Linked DNA regions of Homo sapiens: region 1 is linked to region 2. Evidence: fine-mapped expression QTL. A gene starts in region 2. The other region holds a variant in brackets. All regions are shown on one strand. Distances are between the middles of the regions.

Evidence for each region.
Region 1: its variant is fine-mapped to the expression of TMEM38A in whole blood (TOPMed, PIP above 0.99).

What each region holds. Positions count from the first base shown.
Region 1 is chr19:16,678,589-16,694,259 of GRCh38, forward strand. It overlaps TMEM38A (transmembrane protein 38A), which reads left to right. Exons shown (of 6, transcript NM_024074.4): 2 at 1,396-1,552; 3 at 1,809-1,993; 4 at 3,833-3,920; 5 at 7,700-7,817; 6 at 9,556-11,435. The coding sequence ends at 9,783. Among named protein-coding and RNA genes, the nearest start is that of TMEM38A, 25 kb to the left of the region's middle. RefSeq lists an enhancer at 969-1,469. The variant G/A (reference allele first, on the strand shown) is at 7,452.
Region 2 is chr19:16,653,286-16,668,956 of GRCh38, forward strand. It overlaps TMEM38A (transmembrane protein 38A), which reads left to right and starts at 7,854. Exons shown (of 6, transcript NM_024074.4): 1 at 7,854-8,056. The coding sequence starts at 7,933. SMIM7 (small integral membrane protein 7) reads right to left here and starts at 6,859. Exons shown (of 5, transcript NM_024104.4): 1 at 6,800-6,859; 2 at 6,674-6,715; 3 at 6,110-6,162; 4 at 750-840. The coding sequence starts at 6,825. RefSeq lists silencers at 7,452-7,651, 7,672-7,921 and an enhancer at 8,207-9,015.

The sequences.
Region 1 (15,671 bases), 25 kb after region 2:
GTGCCTACTTTAAATATACAAAAAATTAGCCTGGCATGGTGGCGCGCGTGCCTGTAGTCCCAAATACTTTCGAGGCTGAGGTGGGAGGAGTGTTTGAGCCCAGGAAGTCAAGGCTGCAGTGAGTCGTGATTGCACCACTGCGCTCCAGGCTGGGTGATGGGAGTGAAACCCTGTGTCCAAAAAAAAAAAAAAAAAAAAAAAGTAAAGTGATAAATTTAATGTATATTTTACAAAAAAAAATTCTTTTTAAGACAGCAGGTGTAAGAATACCAGCATAAGGCTGGGCACGGTGACTCATGCCTGTAATCCCAGCACTTTGGGAGGCTGAGGTGGGAGGTTCACTTGAGTCCAAGAGTTGGAGACCAGCTTGGCCAACATGGTGAAACCCCTTCTCTACTGAAAATACAAAAATTAGCCAGGCATGGTGGTGGCTGCCTGTGATCCCAGCTACTCGGGAGTCTGAGGCAGGAGGATCGCTTGAACCTGGGAGGCAGAATTTGCAATGAGCTGAGATTGCACCATTGCACTCCAGCCTGGGTGACAGAGTGACACTCTGTTTGAAACAAACAAAAAAAGTTAAAAAAAAAAAAAAAAAAGAATACCAGCATAAGCTCATAGGGATCTTGGGATCAGCTGAGGTCAGAATAGCAATTTCTTTTGTTTCGTGTGTGTGTGTGTGTGTGTGTGTGTGTGTGTGTGTGTGTGTGTGTATGTGTGTGTTTTAGATGGAGTCTTGCTCTGTTGCCCAGGCTGGAGTGCAGTGCAGTGGTGCAATCTCAGCTCACTGCAGCCTCCACCTCCTGAGTTCAAGTGATTCTCCTGTCAGCCTCCTGAGTAGCTGGGATTACAGGCATGCACTACCGTTCCCGGCTAATTTTTGTATTTTTAGGGACGGGGTTTCACCATGTTAGCCAGGCTGGTCTTGAACTCCTGACCTCAAGTGATTTGTCCACCTTGGACTCCCAAAGTGCTGGGATTACAGGTGTGAGCCACCATGCCCGGCCCAGAGTAGCAATTTCAAAGTACTCCCAGGTACAAGCTGGCCCGTCTCACCAAGCCTCAGTCTCCTCTTGACAATGAGACTCCTGATAATAAAAGCCATCACTTGGCTGGGACACTGATGAGGATTTATTAAGTCCTAAATGTGAACTAGTGTCATCATCATTGCCACCTCTCTGGGCATGAAGGAAAGGACTCCCACTCGGCTCTCTATTTTCTCTGTGCAACCTCAGGCATGCGTACAGCCTCTCTGAACCTTGGTTCCTCCTCTGAAACTTACAAACTGCACAGTGTTGGGTGGGCGCTCTGGATTAGGATAGGCTGACCAGAGCATATGGGAGTGAAGCCTGCCCTTGGCATGCTGGTGATGATGGGGGACACTCCTGTGCCTCCCAGGAGCAGTCGAACTGTCCCGGCGCCACCCCATCGCGTCCTGGCTGTGCGCCATGCTGCATTGCTTCGGGAGCTACATCCTGGCTGATCTGCTCCTTGGGGAGCCACTGATCGATTACTTCAGCAACAACTCCAGCATCCTGCTGGCCTCAGCTGTCTGGTAAGCCATGCTGGGCATGGGAGAGCAGAGCCGGGTGGGGGAAACAACAACCTGGGCACCAGGGAGGAGAGAGGTTGGAGGAATTAGAATGCACCAGCAACAGCCCTCATGATGGCCCTGAATATGCTGCCCTCCATGCCCATCTCTGGTCTAGGCACAGCACGTTGGGGAGGGTGGTCTGATATAACCACAGCTCCCTACCCCCATCCTTCACAGTCTGCCCATCCCCTGGCACTCACTGTTCTCTCCCCAAAAGGTACTTGATTTTCTTCTGCCCCCTGGACCTCTTCTACAAGTGTGTCTGCTTCCTGCCTGTGAAACTCATCTTCGTGGCCATGAAGGAGGTGGTGCGAGTCCGCAAGATCGCGGTGGGCATCCATCACGCCCATCACCACTACCACCACGGGTGGTTCGTCATGATTGCAACTGGGTGGGTCAAAGGTAAATAGGATGATGACAATGAAAAATCATCCCAGTGGAGAACTTTTGGTTCAGTGGTACTACCAGGCACCCCAGCTAGGAAAGCCATTGCTCCAGGCACAGGGGCATAAAGACTGCAGTAGGTGTTCAAACCTCCCTACAGGTATCAGCCGATACCTTTAGGGTAAATGGGAAGATTCTTCTAGAAATGTTACTGTCAGGGGTACCTAAGACAGTGATGATGATGACAAAAGCCAGCATTGCCAGAGCAGGTTTTCTCACTTGCAGCACTACTGACATGTGGGGCTGGATCATTCTTTGTGGTGGGGGCTGCCTTGTGCACTATAGGATGTTGAACAGCACCCCTGGCCTCCACCCACGAGATGCCAGTAGCACACTTGTCCCCAGCTGTGACAAAGAAATTGTCTCCAGACATTGCTAAACGCCTCCTAGAGGGCAAAATGGCTGCAGGTGAGAACCCCTTCTTCTCTAGAGCTCTAGCTATAGGAGTTCTTAACTTTTGTGGACCATGGCCCTTTTGCCAGTGAAGCCTACAGACCCTTTCGTGTGCAGAAAATAGAGCTAGACATGGTGGCTCATGCCTGTAGTTCTAGCTACTCAGGAGGCTGAGGTGGGAGGATCACTTCAGCCTAGGAGTTCAACATTACAGTGAGCTATGATTGTGCCACTGCACTCCAGCTGGGCAACAGAGCAAGAGTCTGTCTCTAAAAAATTAAAATTAAAAAATAAAGTAATAATGAAAATGTTATTAGAAATAAAGAACGTTTTATAATGATAAAAGGGTCAATCCACCAGGAAGATATAACAACTATAAACATATATGCACCTAGAAACAGAGCACCAAAATACATAAAGCAAAAATGGACAGAAGTTAGGGGAGAAAGAGATAATTCAACATTAAAAGTTGGAGAAGTGGGCCAAGGAGTAACAGGAAAGCAGGGAAAGAAGGCCTGAGCAAGTGCCAAAAACCATTGGGCACTTTATCCTCGCTTCCTGCCCACCAGATATGGGTACCCACAAAGTGCCAAGACCTAGAATCACCCTCCATTGAGCCATGGTGTCCTCAGTTATTCCTTGCTATGGGGAGCCAACCTGTGCATTATACAATGGTGAGCCACCTCCCTGGCCTCGACTCACTAAATACCAGTAGCGCTCCCTCCCCAGCTGTGACAACTCAAAGTGTTTCTCAACATTGCCAGATGCTTCCTTGGGGGCAAAATGGCCCCAGATGCGATTCCCTGGTCCAGTAGTACATCTCAGGCACCCAGTTGGTGCAGCAGTTCCTGGAGTGGATGTCCAAGTCTATTTAACCAGTACATTTAGGGTAAATGGGAAGATTCTTCCAGAAATTTAATCATTCTATCTCCATTTGAGTCTTCTTATTGTCTCTCCAGGAAGCTTTTAGTACTGAGCAGATTCCCCAGGGGTATAGCATCTCCTCCAGAGGATGGGTGGCTTGAGAAAGATTAAGAACTTGGAGCCTTGAGGAGGAGAGAGACTGCGGGTGGGGGCTGCCTTGGAAGCCTCATACACAGCTTGGGGTCCTGGATTAGGGGCATCAGGACAGACAACCCCAGGTTGAAGACCTGCCTTGCAGGTGGGGACATGACTGATTCCTTTAGGTGGCTTTTGCTCTGAATTTGCCATATGATCCTCAGCAAGGCTCTGTCCTCTCTGAGCCTCAGTTTCCCCACCTGCAGCTGATGATCATACACCCCCAGGCTCAGTGTCCTTCTAGAGAAGATTCTGGGAGTGGAGAGACTGCTTCCTTGGGAATTCAAACAAGAGGAAAGGAGACCTGGGGGTGGTGGGCTTGTTCAGAAGCACCCTGTCCTGTAGGTTCTGGTGTCGCCCTCATGTCCAACTTTGAGCAGCTGCTCCGAGGGGTCTGGAAGCCAGAGACCAACGAGATCCTGCACATGTCTTTGTGAGTATCCCACTCCACCTCTCCCTCCATGCCTCCTGTATGTCCGGGTGCCTGACCCTGAGTTGGATGCTGCTGATAACTTAGAGAGGCCTCAACCCTTGACTCTGCCTTTCAGGAGCTTTCAGAGGCTATGACTGGGGAAGCTCAAAGCAGAGCCATAGCTCTGCTCAGTGTGGAGGTTGGGGAGGGCAGAGCTGCAGGAAGGAGGCAATACCTGATTGGGGTTTTGAAGGGTGAGCAGGAGTTCACTGGCCAAGAAGGAGCCTCCCAACAGAGGCCAGCATCTCTGCCAACTGTGAAATCACAGAAGAGCAGCAGTGCTGCTGGGTGTGCGGGGTCAGGGTACAGGGTATGCATGGGATATGGAGTGTGCATTGGGAGCATATCTGGAGCTAAGTGGACAAGGCCAGGTGACAGCATCCAAGACCCAATGCAGGATCCCACACTGCATTTAGCTTAATGTTTTTTATTTTTTTATTTTTTGAGACAGAGTCTTGCTCTGTCGCCCAGGCTTGAGTATGCTGGCATGATCTCGGCTCACTGCAACCTCCACCTCCCAGGTTCAAGAGATTCTCGTGCCTCAGCCTCCTGAGTACCTGGGATTACAGGCATGTGCCACCATGCCCGGCTAATTTTTGTATTTTGAGTAGAGATGGGGTTTCACCATGTTGGTCAGGCTGGTCTGGAACTCCTGACCTCAAGTGATCTGCCGACCTCAGCCTCCCAAAATACCGGGATTACAGGCATGAGCCACCCTGCCCTGGACAGTTTAGTGCATTTTTAAAAGACCTTGTTGGGGGCTGGGTGTGGTGGCTCACACCTGTAATCTCTGCACTTTGGGAGGCCAAGCCTGGAGGTTTGCTTGAGTCCAGGAGTTCAAGACAAGACTGGGCAACATAGTGAGACCTATTCTATATTAAAAAAAAAAAGTTAAATTAGCTAGGCATGGTGGGATGCACTTGTGGTCCCAGCTACTCAGGAGGCTGAGGCAAGAGGATTACTTGAGCCCAGGAATTCGAGGCTTCAGTAAGCTAGGATCATGCCACTGTACTCCAGCTTGGGTGGCAGAGCAAGACCTTGTCTCAAAAAAAAAAAAAAAAAAAGGGATCATGCATTTAAATCACCTGGCCCTGGAACCTGGTGAGTGCTTTGGAAATATTAGAGAGAATTATCATCATTAGGCTGGGCACGGTGGCTCACGCCTGTAATCCCAGCACTTTGGGAGGCTGAGGTGGGCAGATCACCTGAGGTCGGCAGTTTGAGACCAGCCTGACCAACATAGAGAAACCCCATTTCTGCTAAAAATACAAAATTAGCTGGGTGTGGTGGTGCATGCCTGTAATCCCAGCTACTTGGGAGGCTGAGGCAGGAGAACCACTTGAATCTGGGAGGCGGAGGTTGCAGTGAGCCGAGATCACGCTATTGCACTCCAGCCTGGGCAGCAAGAGCGAAATTCCATCTCAAAAAAAAAAAATTAACTAGGGGTGGTGGCATGCCTGTAGTCCCAGCTACATGGGAGGCTGAGGCAGGAGAACCGGTTGAACCCGGGAGGCAGAGGTTGCTGTGATCCGAGATCCTGCCACTGCACTTCAGCCTGGGCAATAGAGCAAGACTCTGTCTCAAAGAAAGAAACAGAGAGAGAGAGAGAGAGAGGAAGGAAGGATTATTAAATACATGCAGTGAAGCTGGGCATGGTGGCCCACCCCTGTAATCCCAGCTATTCAGGAAGCTGAGGTAGGGGGATTGCTTGAAACCAGGAATTCAAGACCAGCCTGGGCAACATTACAACATCCCATCTCTAAAAAAAAAAAGAAAAAAAAAATTAGCCAGGTGTGGTGGTGTGTGCCTGTAGTCCCAGCTACTCAGGACGCTGAGGCAGGAAGATCGCTTGGTCTCAGAAGGTTGAAGCTGGAGTGAGCTGTGATCACACAAGTGTACTCCAGCCTGGGCAACAGAGCGAGACCTTGTCTCAAAAAAAAAAAAGCAATGAGAGACAGACATCAGGAATAGAAGTCACAGGTCTGTCTTTTGCAACAAATAAAAATATCTTAAACCTATTTTGCAAGGAAAAAAATAAAAGTTAAGGAAAACTCTGCATGTTGTAATCACATTTTCTGGGGGAAATAAGCTGATGGGGGATCCCCAAGATCATCCTGATGTTCCATGATTTGCTAGAAGGACTCAGAGAACTTAGCAAAGCCATTATATTCAGGGTTATGATTTATTACAGTGACAAGATATAGAATAAAATCAGCAGAGGCAGCTCACACCTGTAATCCCAGCACTGTGGGAGGCCGAGATAGGAGGATTGCTCAAGGCCAGGAGTTCAAGACCAGCCTATGCAATAGAACAAGACTCCATCTCTACAAAAAAAAAAAAAAAACTTAAAAATTAAGCAGGCACAGTGGCACATAACTCTAGCCCTAGCTACTTGGGGGGCTGAGGTGGGAGAATCACTTGAGCCTCAGAGTTTGAAGTTACAGTGAGCCATGATCAGACCACTGCACTCCAGCCTGGGTGATAGAGAGAGACCCTGTCTCTGTAAATAAATAAATAAATAAATAAATAAATAAATAAAACGAAATCAGCAGGGGTTGGCTGGGCGTGGTAGCTCATGCCTGTAATCCCAGCACTTTGGGAGGCTGAGGCGGGTGGATTATTTGAGGTCAGGAGTTCAAAACCAGCCCGGCCGACATGGCGAAACCCCATCTCTAGTAAAAATACAAAAATCAGCTGGCGTGGTGGCGGGCATCTGTAATCCCAGCTACTCGGGAGGCTGAGGCAGGAAAATCACTTGAACCCAGGAGGTGGAGGTTGCAGGGAGCTGAGATCATGCCACTGCATTCCAGCCTGGGTGACAGAATGAGACTCTGACTCATACACAAACAAGAAATCAGCAGGGGCAAAATGTGCATGAGGCAGAGTACAGGAAAGAAAAGGTGAAAATATCCAGTTTTCCTCTCCCAGTGGAATCATGTGGACAGGGCTTCATTCTCCCAGCAGCAATGTGTGACAACATGCATGGTGTACTGCCAACCAGGGAAGCTCTTCTGAGCCTGGGTATCCAGGATTTTTATTGTGGCTCAGAACTAGCTAACCACCTGTGTGGCTGACCTCAGTCTTCAGCCCCTCTAGAGGTCCACCTGATGCTGCATGGCCCAAGACCCCCACCATAAATTACGTTGTTACTACCTGGTGTGGCCCAAGGCCGTCCTCAGGCAAACAAAGACAGTCTTATCAAGGCAGGACACTCCAAGGGCTTAGAGGGCATATTCCAGGAGCTGGACAAAGGCCAGATCTTTCCTTGGACCAGGTTAACCCATCATGCATAGGATGACACCATCTCAACCTGCCACCTTACAATCAGGAGAAGCTGTGGCTGGGCGCAGTGGCTCATGCCTATAATCCCAGCACTTTGGGAGGCCGAGCAGATCACTTGAGGCCAGGAGTTCGAGACCAACCTGGCCAACATGGTGAAACACTGTCTCTCCTAAAAATACAAAAATTAGCCAGGCATGGTGGCATATGCCT[G/A]TAATCCCAGCTACTTGGGAGGCTGAGGTGGGAGAAACACTTGAAACAAGGAGGTGGAGGTTGCAGTGAGCCGAGGTTGTGCCACTGCACTCCAGCCTGGGCAACAGAGTGAGATTCCATCTCAAAAGGAAAAGAAAAGAGAGAAGCTGGGATGGGAGCTGGTGCCAGGGCAGGGGGGTGTCTGGGCCAGAGTTATGAAGACTTGAGCCATGCAGGCACCTCCCGGTAATGACAGCTGCTCCCTCCAGCCCCACCAAGGCCAGCCTGTATGGAGCCATCCTCTTCACCCTCCAGCAGACCCGCTGGCTCCCAGTGTCCAAAGCCAGCCTCATCTTCATCTTCACCTTGTTCATGGTGTCCTGTAAGGTAAGCCTTTCTCTTCTTGCAGCATTCTTGCCTTGACCAATGCCACCCTGCCACCTCCAGGTTGGGAGTGGGGAAATTGGACACTCCCAGCCTTATGTGGCTGGGACAGGCAGCCCAGAGAGGGGAGATGCTTGCCAGTAGGTCACTGGGAAGAGAGTTTAAAAGGCAGTGTCCAGCAGCCAGGACACAGATGAGAGGAACAGGCCTTCTGTGTAAAGGACCCAGCCTGAGCCAGGGTCAAGGTGGGCCCACTCTCTTGGGTACAGAGACCAGAGGGACAAGAAGCTGAAATGGCAGCATCAGGTACCCAGGAACTCAGTTGGACCAGGAATACTTCTAGTCTGACAGTCATGCCTTGAGTTGACATCACCCCACCCAGGAGGGGTCTTCAGGGGCTGGGCTCTCTCCCTCTGCATGAAGATCTTAGCTCAGGGCTGTGTCTTCCCTGGGTGAGGACTCCAGGGCTGTCAAAAGGGAGTGAGCATGTCTTCCTGCATTAGGCGAGAAGGGAGAGGCAAGCAGATGGCTGGGATCCTGTCCTGCTATGTTTGTAGCTCTACCCCAGGCCAAATGTCTTAGTCCATTCAGGCTGCTGTATAACAGAATGCAGTACCATAGACTGGGTGGCTTAGAAACAACAGAAATTTATTCCTGGGCAGGCACGGGGGCTCATGCCAACACTTCAGGGGGCCAAGGCAGGCAGATCACTTGAGGCCAGGAGTTCAAGACCAGCCTGGGCAACATGGCGAAACCCCATCTCTCCTAAAAATACAAAAATTAGCCAGGCGTGGGGTCACATGCCTGTAATCCCAGCTACTCGGGAGGCTGAGGCAGGAGAATCGCTTGAACCCGGGAGGTGGAGGTTGCAGTGAGCTAAGATCGCACCACCGCACTCCAGCCTGGGCAACAAATTGAGACTCTGTCTCAAAAACAAACAAACAGGCAAACAAAATACAAATACAAAAATTAACCAGGCGTGGTGGCGCATGCCTGTAATCCCAGCTACTTGGATGGCTGAGGCATGAGAATTGCTTGAACCCAGGAGGTGGAGGCTGCAGTGACCTGAGATCATGCCATTGCACTCCAGTTTGGGCAACAGAGTGAGACCCTGTCTCCAAAAAAAGGAAAAGGAAGAAATGTATTTCTTACAGTTCTGGAGGCTGGGAAGTCCAAGATCAGGGTACTAGCCTGGTCGGGTTCTGGTGAGGGCCCTCTTTACTGGTTGCAGATAGGCAGCATCTCACTGTGTCCTCGCATGGTGGAAGGGACTGGTTAGCTCTCCTGGGCCTCTTTATAAGGGCACTAATGTCTTTCCTGAGGGCTCCACCCTTATGATCTAATTACCCCTCCAAAGGCCTTACCTCCTAATACCATCACCTTTGTGATAGGTTTCAACATATGAATTTGGGAGGACACAGACCTTCAGACCTGCACTTAGCACAGCTTTTCTCTGAGCCCAGGTGTCGTGGGGAATTCTGGGGGATGGGTGACCAGCAGTCTCAGTGTGCTTGGAACTTTCCAGGGGTCAACACTTGAAATCTGGCATCCTGGGAAACCTGAGATGGTCGCCCATCATCCTGGGGGTGCATGCAGCCAGAGGGCTGGGTCTGGGCTACCTCCAACCTTGACTTTGATGACATTCTCTCCCCTCTTCTCCCCACCCTGCCCTCCACTCCTTTGCTTTCTACCTTGGTCTCCCTCTGTCTCTCTTGCTGTCTCCCTGGCCACCCCACCTCAGGTGTTTCTGACAGCCACCCACTCACACAGCTCCCCCTTTGATGCCCTGGAGGGCTACATCTGCCCCGTGCTGTTTGGTTCGGCCTGCGGGGGTGACCATCACCACGACAACCATGGTGGGTCCCACAGCGGTGGTGGGCCAGGAGCTCAGCATTCGGCCATGCCCGCCAAGTCCAAGGAGGAGTTGAGCGAGGGCTCCAGGAAGAAGAAGGCCAAGAAGGCGGATTAGGGGGTGGCCCAAGGGGCACCGGGGAGAGGACCCGGACCCAGGACCCTCTGAGCTGGGAGGCTTCCTGCGCTCAGATCTATCCTTTCCTGGCCTTGACTTCCCCATCTGCAAATCAGGGTCATTGGCTCACCCTCCAGGGCTGATGTGGGGGTTGAGATATGGGGATGAGGATGAAGAACTTTTGTAGAAATCGGGGTTCCCTCTTTCTCTCTGCCAGGACCCCATAGAGTCACAGCTTTTGGAGGGGTTCACAGAATCCTGGCAGCAGCTCCAGTCAAGAATGTCACTGGTTGGCATGATATTCTTAGTTGTATTTTTCCTTCTTTAAAATTGCATCTTGACCAGGCACAGTGGCTCATGCCTATAATCCTAGCACTTTGGGAGGCCGAGGCGGGCAGATCACCTGAGGTCAGGAGTTCAAGACCAGCTTGGCCAACATGGTGAAACCCCATCTCTACCAAAAATACAAAAATTAGCCAGACGTGGTGGTGCACGCCTTTAATCCCAGCTACTCGGGAGGCTGAGGCAGGAGAATCACATGAATCCAGGAGGTGGAGGTTGCAGTGAGCTGAGATCTTCCCACTGCACTCCAGCCTGGCCAATAAGACCTGTCTCCAGCAAGACCCTGTCTCAAAAAAAAAAAAAAAAATTGCATATTGACTCCTGAAGAACTTCAAGCCATGTTGAGATCCATTCATTTGATGGACATTTTCTAAGTACCTGTGAGCCAGGTGCTGCCATTTCAAAGTCTCTTCTTACCACGCTCCTCAGTGGCTAGACATTTTCACGTGGCCAGAAAGTCCCGACTCTTGCTGGGCGTCCCTGGACAAGTTGCCTTCCTCCTCTGAGCTTGGCGCTCCCCATCTGTATAGTGGAGACCCTTGGCCCCCCTCTGTACGGAAGGGCCGATGCGAAGCTGCAGTTAAAAAAGGCTCACATGCTCCTAGCCTCGTGCAGTCAGGAGGGGAGACCAGGACAGTTGGAAATTATGATTGCAAATGGCTTTGCATTTTAGATCATTCGTGTGTGTGGATCAGAGAAACGCACAAGTTCCCTGGCACAAAGGAAGCCCTCAGTAGACACGTCTAGGGCAGGCTTGAGAGATCAGATGGCGTGAAAGGCTTGTGATCTGTTCGTCTCAGGCTCCCCCTAAACCAAAGAAATGGAAACAGCTGGTTGGGGTTCCACGATCCAGCTCTATCAAGGGGCTCTGAGTGTGCACAGTTGGGACCTGGATGTATCAGGTCTCCCTCAGGCTGGAGTCCACTGTCACTCATTCAGCCATTGAACAAACATACAGATGCTTACCTGCTCTGTGGTCAGCCTTGTGCTGCTGCTGGGCGGGCCAGGAGCCTGCTTCAGTGTGAGCGAGGTGGATGATATTATAGCTGAAGGGTCCCTCCTGGTCACCCTCATCTCAGCCTAGGTCACCAGGATGTCTGAGAGGGGTGGGTGCATGGGACGGGCGTGGCCAGTCTCAGGTGAGGTTTGGGCCCAGACCTCGTTGGAGTCCCAGACGTTGCCAGGCTGTTGGAAAATTGCCTTGTTCCTGTGATGCCTGGGAGTTAGGTGGGTCCTGGGGAGGTTTCATCCTCTTGCTTGTCCACCTCAGCTCGGTGTGGAGGGGCAGCCAATAAATCATTGTGAATGAACCCTCATGGCTTGTCTGATTTATGCCTGGGATTTTGTTTTTTGTTTTTGTTTTTGTTTGAGACCGAGTCTCACTCTTGCCCAGGCTGGAGTGCAGTGGCCCGATCTTGGCTCCCTGCAACCTCCACCTCCCGGGTTCAAGCAATTCTCCTGCCTCAGCCTCCCGAGTAGCTGGGATAATAGGTGCCCGCCATCACACCTGGCTAATTTTTGTATTTTTAGTAAAAGCGGGGTTTCACCATGTTGCCATGCTGGTCTTGAACTCCTGACCTCAAATGATCCACCCACCTTGGCCTCCCAAAGTGCTGGGATTACAGGTGTGAGCCACTGAGCCCAGCCACATGCCTGGGATTTTGGCCTCAAGATGTGGGGATGGCTGGGCATGGTGGCTCATCCCTGTAATCTCAGCACTTTGGAGGGCTGAAGCGGGCAGATCACCTGAGGTCAGGAGTTCAAGACCAGCCTGGCCAACATGGTGAAACCCTGCCTCTACTAAAACTACAAAAATTAGTCAGGTGTGGTGGCAGGTGCCTGTAATCCCAGCTACTCGGGAGGCTGAAGCAGGAGAATCGCTTGAACCTGGGAGGTGGAGGTTGCGGTGAGCTGAGGTGGAGACATTGCACTCCAGCCTGGACAACAAGAGCAAAACTCATTCTTTAAAAAAAAAAAAAAAAAAAAAAGGCTGGGCATGGTGGCTCACACCTGTAATCCCAGCACTTTGGGAGGCCAAGGCAGGTGGATCACGAGGTCGGTGGATCACGAGTTCAGTAGATCAAGACCATCCTGGCTAACATGGTGAAACCCCATCTCTACTAAAAATACAAAAAATCAGCTGGATGTGGTGGCGGGCGCCTGTAGTCCCAGCTACTTGGGAGGCTGAGGCAGGAGAATGGCGTGAACCTGGGAGGCAGAGCTTGCAGTGAGCGGAGATCGCGCCACAGCACTCCAGCCTGGCAGACAGAGCGAGACTCCATCTCAAAAAAAAAAAAAATGTATACTGTGTACAGTATACATTACATACATTATATGAAATCCTAGAAAAAGCAAACTAATGTATAATTACAGAAAGCTGATCAGTGGGTGCTTGGGGAAAGGCAGGTAGGGTGGGGTGGGCAGGAGGGATTTTGAAGGGGCAAGGGGACATGAGTGATGAGTCTGTTAACTTCTTTGATTGTGTTAGTTTCTCGGGTCTATACACATGTCAGAACCTATTACATTGTACATTGCAAATACACACAGTACCTCATTTGTCAGTGATGCCTCAATAAAGCTGTAAAAAAGAACCCTTCAATTATAAGGGAAAAAAGTGCGAGCTTGGTGGCTCACGCCTGTAATCCCAGCACTTTGGGAGGCTGAGGCAGGAGGATCACTGGAGCCCAGGAGTTGGTGATCAGCCTGCACAACATAGTGAGACTCTGTCTCTACAAAAAAAAATTTAAAAATTAGCCGGGGGTGGTGACTCGTGCCTGTAGGCCCAGGCACTCTGGAGGTTGAGTGGGGAAAATCACTTCAGCCCAGGAGGTTGAGGCTGCAGTGAGCTAAGATTGGGCCACTGCACTTCAGCCTGGGCGGAACAGTGAGACCCTGTCTCAAATAAATAAATAAAATAAGAATAAAGTAGAAAAAAACTCCACACCAAATTGGGCAAAAGAAGCTGGGCATGGTGACTCACACCTGTAGTCCTAGCTACTCTGGAGACCAAGGCAGGAGGATCACTTGAGCCCGTTAGGTGGTGTCCAACCTGGGCAACATAGCAAGACCCTGTCTCAAAAAAAAACTGGGCAAAAGATTTGAATAGACACCACCAAAGAAATTATATGGTTGGCAGATATCATATAAATTGCACATTAAAACCACAAGCATATGCCACTGCATACCTGTTATGAATTGAATTGGGTTCCTCTCAAATTCATTTGTTGAAGTCTTAACCCCTAAGGTATTAGGGGGTGGGACCCTTGGGAGATGATTAGGTCATGAGGGTGGGGCTCTCATAATGGGATTAGTGCCCTTACAGAAGAGGCCCCAAAGAAACACTTTGCTCTTCCTACCATGTGAGGACACAGAGAGAAGACACGTATGAACCAGGAAGCCGGCCCTTACCACACAGTGAATCTGCCAGTATCTTGATCATGAACTTCCCAGCCTCCAGAACTGTGAGAAATAAATTTCCGTTGTTTATAAGCCACCATTTTCTAGTATTTTCTTGTAGCACCCTAAATGGACTAAGACAGGAGATAAGGCCTTTTTTTTTTTTTCTTTTGGAGATGGAGTTTCCCTCTTGTTGCCCAGGCTGGAGTGCAGTGGCGCCATCTCAGCTCACTGCAATCCCTGCCTCCCAGGTTCGATCGATTCTCCTGCCTCAGCCTCTGGGATTACAGGCATGTGCCACCACGCCCAGCTAATTTTTTGTATTTTTAGTAGAGACAGGGTTTCACCATGTTGGCCAGGCTGGTCTGGAACTCCTGACCTCAGGTAATCCACCTGCCTCGGCCTCCCAAAGTGCTGGGATTACAGGGGTGAGCCACCGCACCCGGCCTAATTTTTTTGTAGAGTTGGGGTCTCCCTATGTTACCCAGGCTGGTCTCCAGCTTCTGGCTCAAGTGATCCTCTTGCCTTGGCCTCCCAAAGTGCTGGGATTACAAGCATGAGCCACTGCTCCCCGCCACCTTTTAGAATGGATAAAATAAAAATAACCGACAATATCCAGTGTAGGTAAGGATTTGGGGGCAGCTGGAACTCACACACTGCTGGTGGGAGACAATTGGACAGTTTCTTTTAAGGTTTTTTATGTTTTTAAAATTTTTAATTTTTTACATTTTTTTTTGAGACAGGGTATTGCTCTGTCGCCCAAGCTGGAATGCAGTGGCTCAATCTTGGCTCACTGTAACCTCCGCCTCCTGGGTTCAAGCGATCCTTCCACATCAGCCCCCTGAGTAGCTGGGACTACAGGTGCATGCCACCATGCCTGGCAAAGTTTTGTATTTTTTGTAGAGTCGGAGTCGTGCTCTGTTGCCCACACTGGCCTTGAACTCTTGGGCTCAAGCAATCCTCCTGCCTCAGCCTCCCAAAATGCTGGGATTACAGGCGTGAGCCACCATGCCCAGTCAGATACACATCTTCAGCCATGAGAAGAATGCAAATCAAAACCACAGTGAGTTGTCACTTCACATCCAACAAAATGGCTAAAATTAAAATGACAATATGGTCATTTTAGTGCTGGTGAGGATGTGGAGCAATAGGAACTCTCATATGCTTTGGTAGGAAGGTAAAAAGGTGCAACCACTTTGGAAGACAATTTGGCAGGTTTTTTTATAAGTTAAACATAGAAGCCAGGTGCAATCGCTTACGTCTGTAATCCCAGCACTTTGGGAGGCCAAGGTGGGCAGATCACTTGAGTTCAGGAGTTCGAGACCAGCCTGGTCAACGTTGTGAAACCCTGTCTCTGCTACAAATACAAAAAATTAGCCAGGCGTGGTGGTGTGCACCTATAATCCCAGCTACTTGAAGGCTGAGGCGGGAGGAGCCCTTGAACCTGGGATGGGGAGGTTGCAGTGAGCTGAGATTGCACCGCTGCACTCCAGCCTGGGTGACAGAGCAAGATTCTATCTCCAAAAAAAAAAAAAAAAAAAAAAAAAAAACCAAAACAAAACAAAACAAAAAACAAAATGTTAGCCTGGCACAGTGGCTCACCCCTGTAATCCCAGCACTTTGGGAGGCCGAGGTGGGCAGATCACTTGAGATCAGGAGTTTGAGATCAGCCTGACCAACATGGTGAAACCCCAACAAGGTGTAATTTTGTAAAAATACAAAAATTAGCCAGGCATGGTGGCACCTGCCTGTAATCCCAGCTACTCAGGAGGCTAAGACGGGAGAATCACTTGAACCCAGGAGGCAGAGGTTGCAGTGAGCTGAGATTGCGCCACTGCACTCCAGCCTGGGTGACAGAGCAAGACTCCGTCTCAAAAAAAAAAAACCAACAAAACAAAAACACTATAAGTTAAACATAGGGTGGTCATGGGTGACTCACACCTATAATCCCAGGGCTTTGGGAGGTGCAGGACGGAGGACTGTTTTAGCCCAGGAGGTTGAGGCTGCAGTGAGCTGTGATGGTGCCACTGTACTGAAGCATGGGTGACAGAGCAAGACTCTGTCTTTAAAAAAACAAAAATGTGAATAAATGAACAGCTGTGCTCCGCCCATAGTATTGCCTACTGTTCAGCGAAAAAAAAAAAAAGGCG
Region 2 (15,671 bases):
GAAAACAGAAAGCAGGGCCGGGTGTGGTAGCTCACATCTGTAATCTCAGCACTTTGGGAGGCCGAGGCAGGTGGATCACATGAGGTCAGGAGTTCAAGACCAGCCTGACCAACATGATGAAACCCTGTCTCTTGTAAAAATACAAAAATTAGCCAGGTGTGGTGGTGGGCACCTGTAATCCCAGCTACTCGGGAGGCTGAGGCAGGAGAATCGCTTGAAGCAGGGAGGCAGAGGTTGCAGTGAGCCGAGATCACGCCACTGCACTCCAGCCTGGGCAACAGAGCAAGACTCGATCTCAAAAACAAAAACAAACAAACAAAAAAAACAGGGCCGTGCACAGTGGCTCACTCCTGTAATCCCAGCACTTTGGGAGCCCAAGGTGGACGAATCACAAGGTCAGGAGATCAAGACCATCCTGGATAACACGATGGAACCCCGTCTCTACTAAAAATACAAAAAATCAGCCGTGTGTGGTGGCACGCACCTGTAGTCCCAGTTACTCGGGAGGCTGAGGCAGGAGAATCGCTTAGACCTAAGAGGCCGAGGTTGCAGTGAGCCCAGATCGCACCACTGCACTCCAGTTTAGGCGACAGAGCAAGATTCCATCTCAAACAAAACAAAAAATAAAGAAAACAGAAACCAGGATACAAGAGTGATGACTGAAAAGACAGAGAATGACCATCAGGTGGGTCACCCTGGAGAAGGAGACTAAGAGACGACAGTGAAAGGAAAGGGCAGGCTGGACTCACACAATCATGCAGAACATCATGAAGATGTTCCACAGGGCGATGAAGATTCGAAAGTATCTGAGGCTCAGCAAGAATTCCCGGATGTTGTCACCTGGAAGAATCAGAAAGCACTTTTATGGCACAGCTAACATCCCATCCCTACTGCCACCTCAGCAGTGGATTTTTGTGACTTCCACCCACCCGGCGCTTGCTGCCTCCAACTTCGGCAACAGTGTGGCTTTTCCTTTTGGTTTCTCCCTCTTCCCTACCCTCATCAGGCTGTGTCTACCACTGACCAATCCCCTGAAAGCACCAAGCCCCTCTGCCTCTGATTGGCTCAAGAAGGGGCATGTGACCCAAGTCTGTCCAATGAGAGTCCACCCTGGGACTTTTCCCCCAACTACTGGGAAAGAGATACCTTCTGCCAGGCTTACTGAGCTGGGAAGATGTAAGCTCAGTAAGCTCAGTGCCCACAGGCCAAATCCAGCAGCCTCTTCCACCTGTTTTTGGATGGCCTATGAGCTAATAGTTTTTACTTTTTTTTAAAATATAAAGATGGGGTTTTGCTATGTTCCCCAGGTGGGTCTTGAACTCCTGGCTTCAAGTGATCCTCCCGCCTAAGCCTCTCAAAGTGTTGAGATTACAGGCATGAGTCTCCATACCCGGCTGGTTTTTACATTAAAAAAAAAAGAAAGAAGACTATTTTGTGAGACACAAAAATTACAAGAAATTCAAATCTCAGTGTCAATGAATAAAGTTTTATGGCACACAGCCATACCCATTCATTTACATATCATGTCCTGCTGCTTTTGTACTACAACAGCAGAGCTGAGTCACATTGTTGTGCCAGACAGACACCATATGGCCCGCAAAGCCCTCAGATATTTACTATGTGGCCCTCTACAGAAAAACATGCCAACCCCTGCTCTGGGGTCATCTTTGCCAACCCTAACCAGTCTCACAGTAAAACCAACATAAAAGAAAGGGGAATTGAGAGCTGCAGAGAGTCAGATACTGACTCTAACCCTAACCCTAACCCCAACTCCAACCCCAACCCTAATCTTGAAGGACTGGTTTGACACCTAAACCCAGGGTGCCTGAAAACAATTCTGTTGGATGTTTCAATTTGCTTTAACCACTTTGAGCTGGGTTTGCAGTGTTTGTAACTGAAAGCATCCTAATTCAGGCAAGTGAAAGGGAAGGTGTTTCTTGGTGATGACTTACTCTGGTCCCCTTGAATGCCAAGGAACAGAAACCCCTCCGAGGGAAGGCAATTTAGTACGTGAAGACTCCAGAGACCTGGGTTCTAGACCCTTCTTCCAGGGTTTCCAGTCAATCACTCTCCCTCTCAAGCCCTCCAGAATGAAAAGAATGGGTCCAGATTAGGCCAGGCATGGTGGCTCACACTTGTAATCCCAGCACTTCAGGAGGCCGAGGCAGGCAGATTACCTGAGGTCGGGAGTTCGAGACCAGCCTGGCCAACATGGTGAAACCACGTCTCTACTAAAAATACAAAAGTTAGCCGGGTGTGGTGGTGCATGACTGTAATCCCAGCTACTCAGGAGGCTGAGGCAGGAGAATCACTTGAACCTGGGAGGCAGAGATTGCAGTGAGCTGAGATGGTGTCACTGCACTCCAGCCTGGGTGACACAGCAAGACTCCATCTCAAAAAAAAAAAAAAAAAAAAAAAAAGAATGGCTCCAGATTAGGTGATCTACAAGGGTGCTACCCGAAGTATCTGCAGACTGGGGCTGCATGGTAAGTACAGCATACACAACACAAGCCCAGAAATTTCTACTTTTTCAGGGATGACAACCTGACATCCCTGCTCCATCCGAGCTTGTGCTGAACACACCATCTTGCTGAAAACGGTTTAGACGAGCCTAGTATTATCTAGCCGACAGGATTAGTCACGTGCAGCACAACCTGTATACAGGGCTGATCCAGCACAGACTAGAAACATTAAATGCTTGGTCTGTTTCCAGGAAGTTTTGAGAGGCGCTGCTCAGCAAGACCCTTCCCCTAGCGAAGGATCGTGAAAACAGGACCTCCCACCATCAACAGATGCCAATCAAACGTTACTCATTCCAGGCCGGGTGCAGTGGCTCACAACTGTAATCCCAGCACTTTGGGAGGCCGAGGCAGGTGGATCACCTGAGGTCGCGAGTTTGAGATCAGCCTGGCTAACATCGTGAAACCACGTTTCTATTAAAACTACAAAACAATTAGCAGGGCGTGGTGGCGCGTGCCTGTAATCCCAAATCCTCGGGAGGCTGAGGCACGAAAATCACTTGAACCCAGGAGGTGGAGGCTGCAGTGAGCTGAGATCACGCCACTGCACGCCTGGGCAACAGAGTGAGACTCTGTCTCAAAAAATAAAAAAAGGTTACTCATTCCAGGCAACAGCAGTATACAGGGGATACAGAAAGAAACAAAGACCGGTGGCTCTGCCCCAACAAGCATATGGGGAGGAGAAATACTAAACAAATATTCACATGTGACTGCTCTGGTGGGAAAGTTTGGGTGTCCTGGGAATACACACTGCAGAGACCCAACATGGCATGTGCATGGGGAAGGGTGGGAGGTAAAAAAAAAGCCTTTCCAGCCGGGTGCCGTCGCTCAAGTCTGTAATCCCAGCACTTTGGGAGGCCAAGGAGGGCAGATCACCTGATGTCAGGAGTTCGAGACCAGCCTGGCCAACATGGCGAAACCCCATCTCTACTAAAAATACAAAAATTAGCTGGGCATGGTGGTGGGTGCCTGTAATCCCAGCTAATAGGGAAGCTGAGGCAGGAGAATTGCTTGAACCCAGGAAGCGGAGATTGCAGGGAGCTGAGATGGTGCCACTGCACTCCAGCCTGGGCAACAGAGAGAGGCTCCATCTCAAAAAAAAAAACAACAAAAAAACAAAAAACAGGCTTTCTGAGGAAGTGCCAGAGCTCCAAGTTCTGACCTCAAACATGGGCAGTTTAACAAATGTGAGCTCAAATCCTGCCTCTGTCCTTCTGCACAGGTGACCTGGTGACCTGGGACCATCCCTGCACTATCTATGTGCATTCCCTCTTGTGTCAATAGGGGTGTCAGGCAGCTAGGAAGACCTTAGCACACTGCCTGGCACGCATGACGCTCTCAACAAATGCAGCCACTATGGTATTACAGTTAAGCCAGGCAAAGAGGATGGAGGGCAAAGAGCAGCTCCCACAGGGGAAGCAGCAGGTGCAGCACCTGGGCTGGAAGGAGACTGGACACAGCAAAGCAGGAAGCTCCTGACAGAGCACTGGTGCCCTGCCTGGCATCCCTGTCACTGATGCTCCTGCCACTTTGTGCCAAATCTCCCGCCCACTGGAGCTCTGATTCGGATCTGTACAGTGCAACTCTAGGGCCTGGTAGTGCCTTCCACGTGGGGGTTAAGTAACACATGGCTGCTGAGTCAATGTATGAATGGATGGATCAATGGATAGACGGACAGATGGTCTAGTGATTGAGTGCACAACCGCTAGAGTCAGAAAAACCCAGGTTCTAATCCTGATTCTCATTGATTCCCTATGTGGCCACAAAAAAGTTGAGCCACATCTCTGACCCTCAGTTTCCTGATCTGTAAAATGGGAAAGTGACCATTATCTTTTAAGAATGGAGGGAGAATGCAACACTAACAGGAAGCACCTAACTGGGTCAGCACCCAAGGGCAGGCCCCCAAAAAGGGGAGCTGCTGGAGTGTCTTCAAAATCTCAGCTCGGCCAGGCGTGGTAGCTCATGCCTGTGATCCCAGCACTTTGGGAGGCTGAGGTGGGAGGATCGTTTGAGACCAAGAGTTGGACACCAGCCTGGTTAACACAGCGAGATACCTATCTCTACAAAAAACATTTAGAAAATTAGCCAGGCGTGGTAGTAAGTGCCTGTAGTCCCAGCTACTTGGGAGCCTGAGGCAAGAGGATCTCTTGAACCCAGGAGCTCAAGGCTGCAGTGAGCTATGACTGTGCCGCTGCACTCCAGCCTGGGCAACAGAGCAAGACCCTGTCTCTAAAAGAAGAAAACCTCTGTTCCTCAGGGTTCCCCCATCCTTGGGCAGTGCTCCATCATGGCATCCACCGCCTTGACTGTGACGCCGCCTCCTCAAATGGCCTTCCCTTCCACACCCCAGCAGGAGGGCAACCCCATCACCATCCTGTGACTCCCTGCCTCTGTCACCTAACGTCACCTCTGTCACTATCTATTCCCTGCTTAGAAACCATGTGTCCCACCCCATGGTAAGTTCCACTCTATCTGTCTTACCCCTGCTGTACCCCAGCACCTAGCACAGTAGCCAGCATGCGTTAGGTACTCAAATATCTGGTGAATGAAAGAATTAATGAATGGATACAATAGTCATGTACAGATCCCCTTAAGACTCCAAATAGTTACACAATCAAATTCAGCAGGAAGTGTAAATTCTGGGGCCTCCAGGGCCCAGGCAGATGATAGACATATGAAGGGGTTAGGGCTGGGATGAGGCAGAGTCTACAGGCCCCACCTCCTCAGAGTCCTTCTCAACTACACTCAATAGATGCAAACAGCTCTCCTGAATCTTGAGTTGCAGAATGTTCCAATTTTTCAAGAAAAATCAGACATCTTAATTTTTATATAAAATCTCCTGATTAAAAATCTAATGTTGGCATCTAATTTTAAAAGTGGCAGGTCTGCAGCACTCTGAAAGCAACAGCTATGTGTGAGGTTGTTCATTCATTCATTCACAGGCATCGGAGGACGGGTACGGCAAGAACAAAGGATGGGACAAGCCAAGCTAGGGCCTCTTCTCTGAAGTTTACAGTCATATGTGAGGGGCAGACATTAGCCAGATGACAGCAAACATAACAGAACATTATAACGGTAGGAAGTGATGTGAGTGCTCACATCAGGGAGGTCTGGTAGGAGAAAGAAATAGATGACAGAGGTAGGCAGAAAGGCTAGCACATTCTCAGTCATCTCCCACTCACACACACGCTCAATTAAAGAGAAAACTTGTGGCTCACGCCTGTAATCCCAGCTCTTCGGGAGGCCAAGGCAGGGATCACTTGAACCCAGGAGTTCGAGACCGGCCTGGGCAACGTGGAGAAACCCCATCTCTACAAAAAATACAAAATTTAGCCTGGCATGGTGGCACACACCTGTAATCCCAGCTACTAAGGGGGCTGAGGTGGAAGGATCACTTTAGCTCAGGAGGTCGAGTCTGCAGTGAGCCATGATCGCACCACTGCACTCCAACCTGGACAACAGAGCAAGACCTTGTGTCAAAAAAAAAAAAAAAAAAAAAAGAGAAAGAAAGAAAACGAAGGTAGGGCTTGGCGAAACAGAACTGTCCTCTGAAGTGGACCATGCAATTCCAGGATCCAATTAGACCTTACCTGTGCTGGGCTCCCTGGACTCCTCCCCAAAGCCCTGCGTGTCCTTCTTTTTCCTACAAAGAGGAGCAGACAGTGTCCACTTTCAATGGGACATAGAGTCCTCAGCCCCCTGACCCCCAGCTCAGAAGGCCACAAACACTAAGTTTCAGCCCTGGCCCTGCCGCAAACTTGCTGTGTGACCTCTGACGTTCAATACCCTTCTCTGGGCCCCCACTGCCCGGACAATCACAGCCAGGTCAGCAGCCACCGACCGTTTACAAAGTGGCCCGACAGTGCGGGTGCAGGGCGGAAGGTCCGCGGTGGGGCTATTTCTTGGGGGATGGGGCTTAAGCTCTCCAGGAAGGTGAACAGAGGGACAACCAAGGAACGGAGAGTATGGGTTTAAGGTCTCTCGGGGGGTGGGGGGCGAGGAAGATAAACCAGGCTGGAGGCGTGCCCAGAGGGCGGATAGGGCGGGGCCTGCGGCTTGGGGGCGGGGCCTGAGAAGTGCGCCGAGATCACGCTTATGAGGGCGGGGCTACGGGTTCCCCGGATGGAGCCGCAGTCCGGCCGCGACCTACTCACAGCTTAAAGTTCAGCACCGCCCCGGCATTCATCAGCAACGTCCTGCAGAGGGAGAATTACAGTTACTAGGGGCGCCCCCGCGTCCTGCCTGGCTCTCTCTTCCCAGCCTCTGGTCCCCCTAATTACCCGAACAGCAGGATGTCTCCGATCATCGTTACGGCCGAAGCGTCCGTCAGAACCGGAAGCGGAAGCCCCAGGGAGGGAGGGGAGAGGAGCACAAGCCGACCAATCCTAAAGCAACAGTGGCGAGGGCTGGGCCAATCGAAGGTCAAGGCTGGGAGGGTCCCGCCCTCTGCAGGCCAGACCCCCTTAGGGGAGCGCGAGCGCCCCACCTCGCTGGGGAGGCCCCGAGAGCCAGAATGGGAGGAGCGGGGTCTCCTGGGGGCGGGATTGGGTCACGCGTTCGAAGCGTGCCGCGCATGCGTGAGGTCTCGATGCCGTAGGGTTAGCTGGGCAGCAATTCCTACTCACTTTCTGGGGTCCCAAATTGGGCTTCTGGACAAAAGGAATCCTTTGACTCCTGAGCTGCACAGGGTGCGGGGTCCTGACGCAGTGGGGTCCCTAGAAACGGGTGCCCCAACCAACTGGGCTCTAAAATGAGATCCTCCTGGGCCCCATGGGGAACGGGGGTTCCCACTGAGCTGCCCCCCACAAGACGTCCTGATTTGCAGAGCCCCACCGGAGACGGGGTTCCTGATCGAACGGACCCTATGGGGCAGAAAAGTCTTGACGGGGCTCCACAGAGGACCGAGGTCCTAACCTATCTCCACGGGGAACAGGGGTTCTGATTCATGGGGTCCCACCATGGCGTAGGGGTCCTCACTGGGCTCCACCGAAGATCGGGGTCCTAATTGAGCCCACGGGGACAAAGTCCTGGCCGATCCGGCCCCCTGGGAACGGGCGTCCCGCGTGGGTGGGCTCCGTGAGGGACGGGCCCCCAGAACAGGCAGCTCCCCAGCCTCCCTCGCCTTGCACGGGTGCCCCGCACCCCGCCTCGCTGGGCGGAACGGGGTAGCGATGGCAGGAGGGTCAACGCCTGGGACGCCCGACCGTCCAGCTGCGTCCGTGGTGCTGGGCGTCCCCACCACCTGTCCCGGGGTGGGCCGTCGCCCCTCCTCTCCCGCGGGGGCCGGGCCTGGGGTGGCGCCTGGCGGGCGGGGGCGGGCCCAGCTGCGGGGGCGCAGTCGCCGGGCCGCGGGCGGCGGGACGGACGAGGCCGGGGCCCCGGGTGGCACCCGGCAGGCGGGCAGGCGGGCGCCATGGAGCTGCTCTCGGCGCTGAGCCTGGGCGAACTGGCGCTCAGCTTCTCGCGGGTGCCGCTCTTCCCCGTCTTCGACCTCAGTTACTTCATCGTCTCCATCCTCTACCTCAAGTATGAGCCAGGTGAGCCGGGGCGGGGGGCTGGAGGGGACCGGCAGCGGGTGGCGCGGGCCGGGGCAGCTCGGGGGTCGCAGAGAGGGGAAGCCCGTGCGTGGTGGAGGGAGCGAGGGACAGGTTCAAGGATTGCATCGTGGGAGTAGGCAGGCGCTAGAATCGTGGGGTTCTCTCACGCCGGGGTGAGCCCGGGGGAGAAGCCCCCAGGACGATGAAGCTGGGGGAGGGGAAGGAGAGGCGTGCGCGGGTTTAGAGGAGGGGGAACAGGTGCTTGGGGTCGGGGCTCCTGGTTGGGTCAGAGCTGCAGGAACTTGGGCAAGGGGCGCCGGCTGTGGCGAGGGTGCAGGTGGGGGTCGGTGCATCTGTTCTGGCCGCGCGCAGGTGTGACCTCCCTCCTTGACCTTGGCACGCGGATTGAGAGCGCCAGCGGAGTGTCTATAAGGGCCACTGCGCTGGGGGCTGCGGTCAGGTTCAGCGAAAGTGACACCGGTTCTCCTCCCCACTGCAACTGCCCAGCACCCTCCACTCCCCTCCCTTCCCCCACGGTGCTGAATCTCCGAGCCCCCACGGGAATTCTTCCAGCCCTGGCTCCAGATCCTTTCCACTTACGGAGCAGAACCGGCCCCAAGGCTGGGTGACTTGGGGTCAGTGTCCTCCATCTCAGCTCCAGACTCCACGCTGGGGAGGTCACAGGAGGGTACAGCCTGCTTCTTAATTTTTAAAATGAGGATGAATGGCTTCCTTAGAACGTGTTCTATTTTTATAAAAGGTTCACCGTGAACAAATGTTTAAATGTTTCTTGTTCACCGTTATTCTAGAACACCAGCAACTTACTAGATAATAGATTTTAGGCTTAGAAAAATAAAGGAACCCCAAACTTCATAAGCCTTTCTCCCACTTAGATGTAAATTACCACTATAGCTCAGAAAGGAAATAGCTTTATTCTCAGAGGATAAAAATAAGCGCCCCTGTTTACTAAAAACTCAAACTGAAAAGGGCAAAGGAAAAAAAGAGAATTACTGTCAACATACTGGTGGCCAGCCACCTTTCTTGATGTCTCTTCTATTCATTTACGGCTATATAGTTATAAACGTAAATGCACGCTTTTTTTTTTTTTTTTTTTTTTGCGGTTTTTTTTTTAGATGGAGTTTCGCTCTGTCGCCCAGGCTGGAGTGCAGTGGCGTGATCTCGGCTCACTGCAACCTCCACCTTCCAGGTTCAAGCGATTCTCCTGCCTCAGCCTTCTGAGTAGCTGGGACTACAGGCACCCGCCACTACACTTGGCTAATTTTTGTATTTTTAGTAGAGACAAGCCTTCACCATGTTGGCCAGGATAGTCTCGATCTCCTGACCTTGTGATCCACCCACCTAGGCCTCCCAAAGTGCTGGGATTACAGACGTGAGCCACTGCACCCAGCCAATGCACGCTCTTATGCTAACAGGATTACACTCTATTTGCTAGGAATTTTTATTCTATTTTTGCCTATCCACATGCCAGAGCCTATTTTCTTAAAAGCTATCCTGGAGAACATTACTTTGCAAAACAAAATAGGCTTTTGTGTTGTCCTAGCATGAACATGGGGCTATCTTTCCTTTCTGGGGAAGAATTCTTGGTGGTTCAGGCCAGTTCCTTGGGCAGTTGCAGAACCTTAGAAAATCTGAAACTGGCTGGGCACAGTGGCTCACGCCTGTAATCCCAGCACTTTGGGAGGCCAAGACGGGCAGATCGCCTGAGGTCAGGAGTTCGAGACCAGCCTGGCCAACATGGAGAAACCCCGTCTCTACTGAAAATAAAAAAATTAGCCAGGCATGGTGGCACATGCTTGTAATCCTAGCTGCTTGGGAGGCTGAGGCAGGAGAATCACTTGAACCTGGGAGGCGGAGGTTGCAGTGAGCCGAGATCACGCCATTGCACTCCAGCCTGGGCGACAGAGCAAGACTCTGTCTCGAAAAAAAAAAAAATCTGAAACTGAGGAGGGTTGGAGCCCTGTGGGAATGTAGGACACAAATGTCTTGAGAAAAGAGGTCTCCAAGCTGCCTGGGAACTTGCAGGAAGGTTCAAGATATTTCTGCAGAAGTCCTAGAATAAGCCATCCAGGCTCTAAGTGCCAGAGCCTGAAGGTTCCTGAAGGCTGAGAAGTGGTTCCAAACCCTGGCTATTCATGAATTCATGAGACGCTCCTGGGAGCTTTTTTTCTTTTCTTTTTTTTTTTTGAAACGGAGTCTCGCTCTGTCGCCCAGGCTGGAGTGCGGTGGCGCCGCCTCTGCTCACTGCAAGCTCCGCCTCCTGGGTTCACACCATTCTCCTGCCTCAGCCTCCCAAGTAGCTGGGACTACAGGCGCCCACCACCATGCCCGGCTAATTTTTTTTTTTTTTGTATTTTTAGTAGAGACAGGGTTTCACCGTATTAGCCAGGATGGTCTCGATTTCCTGACCTTGTGATCCGCCTGCCTCGGCCTCCCAAAGTGCTGGGATTACAGGTGTGAGCCACTGCGCCCGGCCTCCTAGGAGCTTTTAAACCCCCTATCTCCACCCCCCACCAATTGAATCAGAATATTAATCTCCCCTCCCTCAGTGACTGATGTCTGTTATCAGGGCTGAGGATACTCCACCCAGTTCAACCTCCTCCTTTCATAACTGGGGAAACAGGAAATAGTGGCTAAGCTATCTTAAATACACAATGAGCCTGTGGTCCCATGGCTGGTCAGTTGCAGCCTCGGGACTCAGCCCAGGTCTGCTTGACTCTAAGAATCAGTACAATTGATGTGAGATTGGTTTCCTTAGAAAAGAAAGGTGTTGGAGGCCAGATGTGATGGCTTATGCCTGTAATCCCAGCACTTTGGGAGGCGAGGCGGGTGGATCACTTGAGCCCAGGACTTTGAAACCAGCCTGGGCAACATGACAAAACCCCGTCTCCACTACAAATGCAAAAAAATAGCCAGGTGTGGTGGCGCACGCCTGTAATCCCAGGTACTTGGGAGGCTGAGACATGAGAATAGCTTGAATCCAGGAGACGGAGGTTGCAGTGAGCCGAAATCTCGCTGCTGCACTCCAGCCTGGGTGACAGAGCCTGGCTGAGACTCTGTCTTGGAAAAAAGAAAGAAAGAAAAGAAAAGTGAGGTGTCGGATTGAACTGTTAGTCCCAGTTTGGTGTGCGTGCTGGGTATCTGTAAATTTTCTTCTCAGAATTTGTGTGCTGGACCAGCTACAGAATTTGCCAGGCCGATACAAAGTATCAGTGTGGGGCCTTTTGTTCAGAAATTAAGAATTTCATAGCCAGGCATGGTGGTGTGTGTCTGTGGTCCCAGCTACTTGGGAAGCTGAGGCTGGAGGATCACTTGAGCCCAGGAGTTGGAGCTCAACTGCGCCTGGCTGGGTCAGGCTTTCTTGAGAATCCTGAGAATGGATGAAGCTCAGAGTGTGGTCCTCAACAGAGCAGCATCAATGTTGCCTGGGAGCTGCAGCGAGCTATGATCACCCCACCGCCCTCCAGCCTGGGCAACAGAGCAAGACCGTGTCTCCTAAAAAAATAATAATAATAATAAAAAAAGAATGTCAGCATAGGTCAGATAATCTCAGCATTTGGGGAGGTCAAGGTTGGAAGATTGCTTGAGGCCAGGAGTTCATGGCCAGCCTGGGCAACATTGTGAAACCCCTTCTCTATAAAAAATACAAAAATGGCTAGGCGCGGTGTCTCATGCCTGTAATCCGAGCACTTTGGGAGGCTGAGGTGGGCAGATCACCTGAGGTCGGGAGTTCAAGACCAGCCTGACCTACATGGAGAAACCCTGTCTCTACTAAAAATACAAAATTAGCCGGACGTGGTGGCACATGCCTGTAATCCCAGCTACTAGGGAGGCTGAGGCAGGAGAATCGCTTGAACCTGGGAGGCAGAGGTTGCGGTGAGCCAAGATTGTGCCATTCCACTCCAGCCTGGGCAACAAGAATGAAACTCCGTCTCAATAAACAAATAAATAAAAATTAAAAAATGCAAAATACAAAAATATTAGCCAGGTGTGGTGGCATGTGCCTGTAGTCCTAGCTACTAGGGAAGCTGAGGTCGGAGGATTACCTGAACCCTGCAAGGTGGAGGCTGCAGTGAGCCATGATCGTGCCACTGCACTCCAGCCTGGGCAACAGAGTGAGACCCTGTCTCAAAAAAAAAAGAAAAAAGAAACTAAACGTCTCTGAATCATGGGAGTCAGTTCTACCACTAGCACTGAGTAAACACCACAATGGTTATTTCACCACCATGAGCTTCAGTTTATTTGTCTGTGAAATGGGATCATTGGTAAGAGAACCCCAGACTCCCTTTCCTAGCGATTGTAAAGATCTATTGAGAATTTTGTCAGGGATAAGGTCTAAGGCATTTGTGAGGGGTGGTGATGTTTATTTGGAAGTCTAGGGAGGAATATATTACTTGGGATACTGGCATTTTCTGGGTCAGGCTTGCTTACTTTTCTGTTTCTTTTCTTTTCCTTTTTTTTTTTTTTGAGATGCAGTCTTGTTTTGCTGCCCAGGCTGGAGTGCAGTGGCACGATCTCAGCTCACTGCAACCTTCACCTCCCAGATTCAAGTGATTCTCCTGCCTTAGCCTCCTAAGTACCTGGGATTACAAGCATCCACCACCACACCCAGCTAATTTTTTTGTTTTGTTTTGTTTTTGGAGACGGAGTCTTGCCGTGTCTCTAGGCTGGAGTGCAGTGGCTCGATCCCGGCTCACTGCAACCTCCACCTGCCGGGTTCAAGCGATTCTCCTGCCTCAGCCTCCCGAGAAGCTGGGATTACAGACACGCGCCACCATGCCCAGCTAATTTTTGTATTTTTAGTAGAAACGGGGTTTCACCACGTTGGCCAGGATGGTTTCAATCTCTTGACCTCGTGATCCGCCCACCTTGGCCTCCCAAAGTGCTGGGATTACAGACATCAGCCATTGCGCCTGGCCCATTTTTTTTGTATTTTTAGTAGAGATGAGTTTTCACCATGTTGGTCAGGGTGGTCTCAAATTCCTGAACTCAAGTAATCCACCCGCCTCAGCCTCCCAAAGTGCTGAAATTACAGGTGTGAGCCACTGCTCTTGGCCAATTTAACTTTAAAAAAATTTTTTTTTTTCGAGACAGGGTCTTGCTCTGTCTCCCAGGCTGGAGTGCAGTAGTACAGTCATAGCTCACTGTGGCCTCCAACTCCTGGGCTCAAGCAATCCTCCCACCTCAGCTTCCCATGAGCAACTGTGCCTGGCTGGGTGAGGCTTTCTTGAGAATCCTGAGAAAGAATGAAGCTCAGAGTGTGGTCCTCAACTGAGCAGTGTCAATGTCACCTGGAAGCTGATTAGAAATGCAGAGCCCCTGCGGTGGCTCATGCCTATAGTCCCAGCACTTTGGGAAGCCAAGGTGGCTGGATCACAAAGTCAGGAGTTTGAGATCAGCCAGGCCAACATGGTGAAACCCCGTCTCTACTAAAAATACAAAAACTAGCCAGGCATGGTGGCGGGCTCCTGTAATCCCAGCTACTTGGGTGGCTGAGGAAGGAGAATCGCTTGAAACCAGAAGATGGAGGTTGCAGTGAGCTGAGATCGCACCACTGCACTCCAGCCTGGGCAAAAGAGCGAAACTCCATCTCAAAAAAAAAAAAAAGAAAAGAAATGCAGAGTTCTGGCCAAGCTCAGTGGCTCACACTTGTAATCCTAACACTTTGGGAGGCCGAGGCGGGCGGATCACCCGAGGTCAGAAGTTCGAGACCAGCCTGGCCAACATGGCGAAACCCTGTCTCTTCTAAAAATACAAAAATTAGCCAGTCATGGTGGCACACGCCTGTAATCCCAGCTGCTCAGGAGGCTGAGGCAGGAGAATCACTTGAACCAGGGAGGTGGAGGTTGCAGTGAGCCGAGATTGCGCCATTGCACTCCAGCCTGGGCAACAAGAGCCAAGAGTGAAACTCCATTTCAGGAAAAAAAAAAAGAGAAAGAAATGCAGAACCCAGGCCCCACCCAGCTCTGCCCAATGAGAGTCTGTATTTGAGCAAAATCTGCGGGTGATTTGGCTCATTTCTGGGGCCTCCAAGCTCCATGTGAGGAAAGAGAAGGAAGCAGTTGAGTGCTGGCTGCAAAACTGAAGAAATGAGTGAATCAATGACAATCCTGGTTGCCTTGAGCCTTGACCCATCCAAAGAATCTCTCAGACCAGTACTTCTCAAACTCACCTACACACCAGACTCACCTAGGGAGATTTTAAAAATCCTTTTGGGCCAGACGTGGTGGCTCATGCCTGTAATCCCAGCACTTTGGGAGGCCAAGGCGGGTGGATCACTTGAGGTCAGGATCGAGACCAGCCCGGCCAACATGGTGAAAGCCCGTCTCTACTAAGAAAAAATACAAAAATTAGCCACGCATGGTGGTGTGCACCTGTAATCCCAGCTACTTGGGAGGCTGAGGCACAAGTATTGCTTGAACGCGGGAGGTGGAGGTTTGCATTGAGCCAAGATCTTGCCACTGCACTCCAGTCTGGGTGACAGAGCAAGACTCCGTCTCAGAAAAAAAAAAAAAAAAATCCTTTTGTCCTGATTGTCACCCCTCTTTCATTTAAATCAGAATTGTGGGTCAGGCATGGTGGCTCACGCCTGTAATCCCAGCACTTTGGGAGGCTGAGGCTGGTGGATCACCTGAAGTCAGAAGTTTGAGACCAGCCTGACCAACATGGTGAAACCCTGTCTCTACTAAAAATACAAAAATTAGCCAGGCGTGATGGCGGGCGCCTGTAGTCCTGGCTACTTGGTAGGTCGAGGTGGGAGAATCACTTAAACCTGCGAGGCGGAGGTTGCAGTGAGCAGAGATCATGCCATTGCACTCCAACCTGGGCAACAGAGCAAGACTCTGTCTCAGAAAAATAAATAATAAATAATAAATTAATTAAATAAATAACTCAGAATCATGGGGCTGAAGGAGGTGGCTCACATCTGTAATCCCAGCAAGTTGGGACACCAAGGCAGGCAGATCACTTGAAGCCAGGCGTTGGAGACCAGCCTGGCCAACACAGTGAAACCCTGTCTCTACTAAAAATATAAAAATTAGTCAGGCATGGTGGCGCAAGCCTGTAATGCCAGCTACTCCGGAGGCTGAGGCACGAGAATTGCTTGAACCTGGGGGGAGGCGGAGGTTGCAGTGACTCTGTCTCAAAAAAAAAAAAAAAAAAAAGAGATGGGGGTTCTGTTGTGTTGCCCAGGGTGGTCTTGAACTCCTGGGCTCAGGAGATCCACCTGCCTTGGCTTCCCAAAGTGTTGGGATTACAGACATGAGCCACTGCACCCGGCCAACCACTGATCTTTCTTTCTACTACCTCCAGAGTTTTGCCTTTTCCAGAATGTCCTTTAGTTGGAATCATGCAGTATGTACCCCTTTCAGACTGGCTTCTTTCACTTAGGAATATGCATTTAAGGTTCCTCCATGTCTTTTCATGTCTTGATAGCTCACTGGATAATATTTCTTTCTTTTTTCTTTTTCTTTCTTTTTTTTTTTTTTGAAATGGACTTTGCTCTTGTTACCCAGGCTGGAGTGCAATGGTTTGATCTTGGCTCACTGCAACCTCTGCCTCCCAGGTTCAAGTGATTCTCCTGTGTCAGCCTCCTAAG